Regions from separate parts of the Homo sapiens genome. Here region 2 is linked to region 1. The links come from fine-mapping of genetic effects on gene expression. A gene starts in region 1. The other region holds a variant in brackets. All regions are shown on one strand. Distances are from middle to middle.

Region 1 (4,385 bases):
ATATAAGGCTGGAGGGGCAGGTGGCTCACACGTGTAATACTAGCACTTTGGGAGGCTGAGGTGGGCAGATCACCTGAGGTCAGGAGTTCAAGACCAGCCTGGCCAACATGGTGAAACCCCAGCTTGACTAAAAATACAAAAAATTGGCCAGGCACAGTGGCTCACGCCTGTAATCCCAGCACTTTGGGAGGCCAAGGTGGGTGGATCATTTGAGGTCAGGAGCTTGAGACCAGCCTGGCCAACATGGTGAAACCCCACCTCTACTAAAAATACAAAAATTAGCCAGGTGTGATGGCAGGCGCCTGTAGTCCCAGCTACTCTGGAGGCTGAGGTAGGAGAATTGCTTGAACCTGGGAGGCAGAGGTTGCAGTGAGCTGAGATCACGCCACTGCACTCCAGCCTGGGCAACAAAGGAGACTGTCTCAAAAAAAAAAAAAAAAAAAAAAAAAAGGAAGAAGAAGGAAAAAAAGAACCATATAAGATGCCAAATGGAAAGCAAAGATTGGGTCCTGGGATCACCCTGTGTTCTCTCCCATCTCATCCTGTCTGGTCCCAGTTGTGCCTGTAGGCTCAGCAGCCACTAGAGTCCAGGTCAAGTCAGACTGCACTCTGATGAGCGCTCCCAAAGAGTTCCATCTAGGGCATACTGGGCACCAGGAGGCAAAAAGTTCGGCCCTACCACCCCCAAAGGGAGCTAGGTACCCCCATGATCCTTATCCCTAATCTCTATCATTTCCCCAGTTCTCATGTCTGGAAGGGACACAGCACAGCCGGAGGATGGACCTACCCTTCCTGGTTTTCCATTTGCCCTAACTTCTGAGCTGAACATCACCAGAGAGGGGTCTGGATATAACTGTACTGTTGCTATCCCTGGAGGATGGGCTCTGGCTCTCCATGGAAGGGGTTTCTGTTTGCACAGCCATGGCCCACCTGCACACAGGAGGCCAACACTGCCGGCTTTGGAGAAGCTGCAGAAGGTAACTGGTTGAATCGGTCCTGAATAAGTGAACAGTCAATCTTCAACCATGGACGGCCAGAGACTGGACTCACCCACAGCTGGGGACTGGGGGCACCAAGGTGGGGCTTCCTGACTGCACCCCATGAGATCCTGGCCCCTGGGACCCTACTCTTGCTTTCTCTCCACCAGGAAAAAAAGGCTAGAAGCACTGACCCCAGAGGAACAGGAGATTTTGCAGTTCCTGCTAGATACCTTGGCTATACTTAAAAGCAGCGAGGACCTCACCATTAGTGCTGAGGCCCTGGGAAGCTAAGAGGCACCAGATGAGGCCTATGGCACTGCTGGGTGGACTAGGCACTTGTCTTTAGGAGTGCCTGGACCCCTCTGTATAAGCAGGGAAAATACAGAGCAACCAGAGGATCCTGGTTGGAAAAAGGGCAGGAAAAAGGGCTAGTACCCAGTCCCTAAATGAAGCATCCCGCCACCCTCCTGTGATTGCCAATAGGCTTCCACCTGACCCCAACTACCAAATAAGGCACCACTGCAAGGGTCAGAGTCCAAGAGTTGTGGCAATATTTCTGCCTCCTGGCTCAGGCTCTGACCCTAGTGCAAATGCCCCCACTACCTCATCCATGAAACCAGGGCTCCCAGGATGGTTCCCAACCTGGACTTGCAAACCTCTGACTAATGGGACCTTTGGTCAGAGCTGTGGAGACCACTCTGACCTCTCACTGAAGTCACAGACCCCTAGGGTTGATTTTGACCTGTGTCCTATAACCACCACCCCGTACTAGCCCAAGAGCATGGATAAAAAGACTGAGGTCCCAGACTCCTAGGCAAAAGGAAAGGGGTTCTGGGCAGTGTTAAGACTGGAAGCAGGACTTCCTTCCATTGAGGGGCTGAGGCTGGGCCAGTGACTATACCTGCCCCCACCTGCCTGAGCAAGTATACTCAGGCCCACAGTGGTATACTGGAGCCCCCAGACTCCATGTGCGCTTGGGCTTGCGTGCACCACTTGTGATCACGTGCACACCAGCCTTTCATGCCATGTGCCACAGGCCCTATTCTCAGGAAGAGAGGAAGGCCTGCTGTCCTCGGAGAAGATACCCTTACTGCAAAACAAAGGAGATCACCTGAGACTCCCTGTCAGGAGGCACTCCTCTTTCACCCTCTGGTCAGGTGTCTGGGACTGAAGTGGGCATTGTCAGTGGCTAAAGATAGATCAGAGGGTGGAAGATGGCCTGAACCTTGTCAGGAGCCCCTCCCAGATGTCAATGCACCACTAGCTCCCCTCAGAAAAGGTGTCAGATGACCCCTAATCCAGTCTTGGCCGGGCTCTAGTGAGTCCTTGCCTGGGGCCGCGTCAGAGGGCACCTCTGTTCTTCAGACTTCTGCACAGGGCCGAACGGGTTTGGAGCAGTCACCGCGGCCACCACCTCCAGGCAGTCCTCCTTGGTACCCAATCTGCTCCGCCCCCAGACTTTGTGGGGAAATGGGGTCTCAGGGGTCAAGGGTCGGTAGGGCGGGCTGGGTCCCGGAAGCGGAAGCGCAGTGCACTTCCGGCGCGCAGCGGGCGGCCATGTTGGAGCAGCGGAGGCGGCGCAGAGGCGCGTCTTGGGTCCCCGCGGCGGCGCCGGTAGGTTGGAGCCGCGGGCCTAGCCGCGCCGCGGAGGGGCGGCCCGCGAGGCGGCAGGGCGGACGGGCAAGCGGCCAACTCTTCCCGGACCCGCGTCCTCCGCCGGCCTGGCCGAGACCCCCCACCCCACCCCCACCCCGCGCCCAGCGACCCCACCCTGGGGCTGTGCGGTCCCGGTAGGGCTAGCACCGTTCACCCTGTACATTTCGCTGCCTCAGTGACCCCCGCCTCACGGCTTGGGCCCTAAGGACGTGCATTCCCAGCCTGAGGGCCCCGATCTGCCCCCTCCCCCGGTCTGCCTGTGTGGCGCCTCTCTCACGCCCTATCTTCCGTCAACTTCTCCTGCCTTCCCCGGGGGCACGTGTGAAGGGAAGTCGGAGGCCGGGCAGGAGCCTCTGTTTCCGAAGCTTCTCGAAAGCCCAGAAAACCCCTCCCAAGAGCCCAGCCTAACCTGGGTGGAAGAGCCCCCAGGTCACCCCAAATATTTGCGCTGGGGCGCGTGTGAGGGTGGGAAATAGGTCCCTCTCTCTTCTACAGTTCACAGCTCTGGGAACTACATCCCTTCAAAAAACATTAATAAAGAACTAAAGTCATGTGCAAGGATTGTGCTTGGAGAACGGTCTCTGGGGAGGGGAAGTGCCCAAGACACCTGAGGATCCAAGAATGTTTCCAAACAAAGAGCCCTAGGGCATTTCCTCCAGGGTATTCTGAAGACTTCATCTGCTGCATTAGAGCGGTGGGAAGAAACTACACAGACGGGCCTCATGGCCCGAGGGACCTGCCTGATCCTGGCTGATCTTTTAATGCTCTGGTGCAGCTGGGGAGCTGCCTCTTGCTTCTGGGAACCCTCAGTGTTGGGTTGGGTATTAGATGTTAGTTATGATTGATGTCCACAGCTTCTTTAAAGAAGTCTGGGAGTAGTTAGGTGTTCTCAGTCACCTCCATCTGGGCTGTACTGAGGTCTGTGGCCCTCCAAGTCTTAGGTAGGACAGTGCATACCGCTAATGTCCCCTTGACTCACCATCCTACTTGCAGCCTTTGGCTCCCATTGTCCTTAAACTTTGGGATCTTGGTCTGGCTTCCTGGTCCCTGGTCTGCCTGGTTGCCTAGAGAGATGTCATTGGCACCTGCTACTCATCAGCTTTTTAGTTTCTGTTGAAGAAAAGTCCGACTCTTGATTAGGTCTCCATGCCTCTGGAGCTAGAAAATGGGTTGCTGAGTACCCTGTCTAGAGACTGAAAACAGAACTTCTGGTGGGCAGGGAGATTCCCCCACCCCACTCCAGCTCCACACATGAACAGCAGCAGCTGGAGAAACAGATGGGCATGGACAGTGGGTGTAAGTCTGGGCCCTTTGGCTAACATTCAGGGTTCTTTGTTGCTCTATCCTCGCCTGTTTTTTCACCTAGATCCCAGATCCCACACCAAGTATGCCTTAACCCTTTCTCACTTTGGAGCCATTGCATTAGCTATTCCCCTTTTTGTTCCATTTCCATCTAATCATTTTTCATTCATCACTCATATCCTAGCTAGGTGTTGTCTCTCCCAGGAATCCTTTCCTGACCCATTGGCAAACTGAGCTGAATGCCAGCATTCACTCCCAAGAATCTTAACAGTGTCTTTTTCTGGCCTTCTAACCTAGGTTCCTTGAGGACAGGGATATTGCCTGTATTCCCAGAGCTGAGTAATTCTAGGTTTCTGGCTTCAGAAAATACAGAGTTGAATTAAAATGTACCAGGCTCAAATCTTTTCAGGGACCCGGCAGCAGGTTGGATGGCTCTGAGGTATTTCT
Region 2 (4,385 bases), 680 kb before region 1:
AGCCATTATCTCTTCATATATTGCCTCTATTCCATTAACTTTTTTATCCTGTGTTATTATTTATTTTTGAGGTAGAGTCTCGCTCTGTCACCCAGGCTGGAGTGCAATGGTCCGATCTCGGCTCACTGCAACCTCCACCTCCTGGGTTCAAGCAATTCTCCTGCGTCAACCTCCCGAGTAGCTGGGATTACAGGCGCTCGCCACCGTGCCTGGCTAATTTTTGTATTTTTAGTAGAGACGGGGTTTCACCATGTTGGCCAGGCTGGTCTTGAACTCCTGACCTCGTGATCTGCCCGCCTCGGCCTCCCAAAGTGCTGGGATTACAGGCGTGAGCCACTGCACCTGGCCTACCTAAAGTCTTTGTGGGCATTTCTTCTGGTTTGTTTTCATAGTGCTTTTTTTTCTTGTGTACCTGTTTACTTAAAAAAATGTTTTTTTGGCTGGGCGCGGTGGCTCACAACTGTAATCCCAGCACTTTGGGAGGCCGAGGCTGGTGGATCACGAGGTCAGGAGATCGAGACCATCCTGGCTAACATGGTGAAACCCCGTCTTTACTAAAAATACAAAAAAATTAGCCGGGCATGGTGGCGGGCGCCTCTAGTCCCAGCTACTTGGAAGGCTGAGGCAGGAGAATCGCTTGAACTCAGGAGGTGGAGGTTGCAGTGAGCCGAGATTGCACCACTGCACTCCCGCCTGGGTGACAGAGCGAGACTCAGTCTTAAAAAAAAAAAAAAGTGTTTTTTTGGCTAGGCATGATGGCTCACCCCTTTAATCCCAGCACTTTGGGAGGTGGCTGGATTGCTTGAGCCCAGGGGTCCAAGACCAGTCTGGGCAACACAGTGACACCCCATCTCTACAAAAAAGTGAAAAAAATATAAATTACCTGGGCATGATGGCCTGTGCCTGCAGTCCCAACTACTTGCAAGGCTGAGGCAGGAGGATCGCTTGAGCCTGGGAGGTTGAGGCTGCAGTGACTCATGATTGTGCTGCTGCACTCCAGCCTGGATGACAGAGTGAGACCCCATTTCAAAAAAAGAACATTTTAAAATTGAAGTATAATATAGTTCAGAAAAGTACACATATTCTAAGTATATGGCTTACAGAATGTTTACAAATTGAACATATCTATGCAGCCAGAATTCAGATCAAGAAACAGGGTATGGCTGGGCGTGTTGATTCACGCCTGTGATCCCAGCACTTTGGGAGGCTGAGGTAGGCAGATTGCTTGAGCCCAGAAGTTCTAGAACAGCCTGAGCAACATGATGAAATCTCTACTAAAAACACAGAAAATTAGCCGAGCATAGTGGCATGTGCCTGTGGTCCCAGCTACCCAGGATGCTGAGGTGATCATCACCTGAGCCTGGGAGGTAGAGTCAGCTGTGAGCCATGATTGCTTTACTGCATTCCAGCCTGGGTGACAGAGTGAGACCCTGTCTCGAAAGTCCCCCCACCAAAAAAAAAAAAGAAAACAGGAAAACGCAGGCTATTGGCCGGGCATGGTGGCTCATGCCTGTAATCCCAGCATTTTGGGAGTCCGAGGCGGGTGGATCAGGAGTTTGAGAGCAGCCTGGCCAACATGGTGAAACCCTGTCTCTACTAAAAAAATATAAAAATGAGCTGGGCATGGTGGCGTGCACCCGTAACCCCAGCTACTCGGGAGGCTGAGGCAGGAGAATTGCTTGAACCTGGGAGGTGGAGGTTGCAGTGAGCCGAGATCGTGCCACTGAACTCCAGCCTGGCTGACAGAGCAAGACTCTGTCTCAAAAAAAAAAAAAAAAAAAAAATGCAGACTATTATCAGCTCTAGAAACCTTCTAGAAACCTCCTTATATGCTCTTCCAACCCCTACCAACACCTCCCTCCACCTCCCCATATTAAGATAGCTACTGTCTTGACTTTGAGAGCATAGATGAATTTTGCCTACTTTTTTTTTTTTTGAGACAGAGTCTCACTATGTCCCTCACGCTGGAGTGCAGTGGCGTGATCTCGGCTCACTGCAACCTCCACCTCCCAGGTTCAAACGATTCTTCTGCCTTAGTCTCCCAAGTAGCTGGGATTACAGGCGTGCGCCACCACACCCGGCTAATTTTTCTATTTTTAGTAGAGACGGGGTTTCACCATGTTGGTCAGGCTGGTCTCAAACTTCTGACCTGATGATCCACCCGCCTCGACCTCCCAAAGTGCTGGGATTACAGACGTGAGCCACTGGGCCTGGCCTGCCTACTTTTAAACTGTGTAAATAGAATCATACAAAATATAACTTTTTGTATCTGGCTTCTCTTCCTCAGTGTTATGTTTTTGTGATTTATTCATAATATTGTTCTTAGCTGTAGACTCATTTATTCTTGCTGTGTAGTATTCCACTGCGCCTGGTTACTCTTGATTATATGTTGTACATGGTATTTGAAAACTTATGGGAATTTTAGCTGGGCATGGTGGTGCACGCCTGTGGTCCCAGCTACTCGGGAGGCTGAGGTGGGAGGATTGCTCGAGCCTGGGAGGCG[A/G]AGGTTGCAGTAAGCCAAGATCACACCACTGCGCTCCAGCCTGGGTGACAGATTGAGACCCCATCTCAAAAAAAAAAAAAAAAAAAAAAAAGAAAAGAAAAGAAAATGTACTTATAGGAATCTTTGAGGCCAGGATGATGGTATCATTTTCCAGAGAGGACTTAGTTTCTCCCTGGTCCCTAGGAGTAGGGGAGTCTACTAGTAGGAGACTAATTAAAGTTTAAGGCTTGAGCTTTGCTGGACCACCTGCATAGATGATGCAAAGCTCAGCTGTGTTTTGCTTTTACCACTACTTACTTTTTTTTTTGAGATGGAGTCTCGCTCTGTCGCCCAGGCTGGAGTGTAGTGGCACAATCTCAGCTCACTGCAATCTCCGCCTCCCAGGTTCACACCATTCTCCTGCCTCAGCCTCCCGAGTAGCTGGGACTACAGGTGCCTGCCACCACGTCCGGCTAATGTTTTGTATTTTTAGTAGAGATGGAGTTTCACCATGTTAGTCAGGATGGTCTCAATCTCCTGACCTTGTGATCTGCCCGCCTCGGCCTCCCAAAGTGCTGGGATTACAGGCGTGAGCCACTGCGCCCGGCCACTCTTTTTTTTTTTTAATTAAAAAAATTTTTTTGATTGGGCACAGTGGCTTATACCAATAGTTCCAGCACTTTGGGAGGCTGAGGTGGGAGGAGCACTTAAGCTCAGGAGTTGAGACCAGCTTGGGCAGCACAGTGAGACCCTGCCTCTATTCTGTAAAAAACAAAAAAACAAAAAATTTAATTTAAAAAAATTTTATGGCTGGGTATGGTGGCTCATACCTGTAATCCCAGCACTTTGGGAGGCTGAGGCAGGTGGATCACTTGAGGTCAGGAGTTCAAGACCAGCCTGGCCAACATGGTGAAACCCTGTCTCTACTAAAAACAAAAATTAGCTGGGCGTGGTCGCGCATGCCTGTAATCCCAGCTACCTGGGAGGCTGAGGTAGGAGAATCGTTTGAACCAAGGAGGCGGAGTTTGCAGTGAACCAAGATCGTGCCACTGCACTCCAGCCTGGGCGACAGAGCAAGACTCCACCTCAAAAAAAAAAAAAAAGTTATGAGTACATAGTAGGTATACATATTTATTGGGTTTATGAGATATTTTGATGCAGGGATACACTGTAATAATCACTTCAGGGTAAACAGAGTAGCCATCACCTCAAGCATTTATCATTTTTTTGTGTTACAAACATTCCTATTCTTTTAGTTACTTTAAAATGTACAGTAGATTATTGTTGACTGTAGTCACTCTGTTGTGCTATCAAATACTAGATTTTATTCCTTATATCTAACTTTATTTTTGTACCCTTACTTACTTTTATTTCTGGTTGATCCTTACCTTGAAAGTGTAGTCTTTGGGATTCCAGCTTAAAATGGGGGTGTTATCAGAGTCCTCATCTCTGAGGGCCCCTGAGCTTCGACTATCATCTCTCCCAACCCCAGTCAAAGCCCAGAATGTTGCCTAAAGGACAGCTTTTGGCCAAGCCAACAGGGCCAAAAAAAGGGCCAGCTGGTTGGAGTCCTGAGTACCCATCAGGCCTTGCGGGAGGTGCTGTAACTGCCTATGCTACTGTCCTCTTATTTGGGCAGGCATTGGGTCAAGGAGGAGCAGAACAGACCCTTTCGTGGTCAGAATGTTTGCCTGGCTTATGTCCCCAGACAAACCAGGGCTCATCAGTCTATTGTTCTGCTTTTCATTCCAGCCTAATTCAGTGGTTTGAGACAGCACCAAGTCGGACCTGCCCACAGTGCCGAATCCAGGTGAGAGTATTGGGGTGGGACCACCTCAACTGAAGAGATCTCCTTAGCAGAGAGCAGGAATGTGAAAAGAGCTCTGAAACTGCAATATCTCTG

What was found. PIP is the estimated chance that this variant, and not a neighbour inherited with it, causes the effect. A credible set is the group of variants that fine-mapping cannot tell apart.
Region 2: its variant is the best candidate, but not a certain one, in a credible set for the expression of CCDC71 in whole blood (TOPMed, PIP 0.74).

What each region holds. Positions count from the first base shown.
Region 1 is chr3:49,164,476-49,168,860 of GRCh38, reverse strand. It overlaps CCDC71 (coiled-coil domain containing 71), which reads left to right and starts at 2,530. Exons shown (of 2, transcript NM_022903.4): 1 at 2,530-2,594. RefSeq lists enhancers at 2,249-2,368, 2,389-2,458 and silencers at 2,609-2,688, 2,709-2,768.
Region 2 is chr3:49,848,050-49,852,434 of GRCh38, reverse strand. TRAIP (TRAF interacting protein) reads left to right here. Exons shown (of 15, transcript NM_005879.3): 2 at 4,235-4,292. Among named protein-coding and RNA genes, the nearest start is that of TRAIP, 6.3 kb to the left of the region's middle. The variant A/G (reference allele first, on the strand shown) is at 2,504.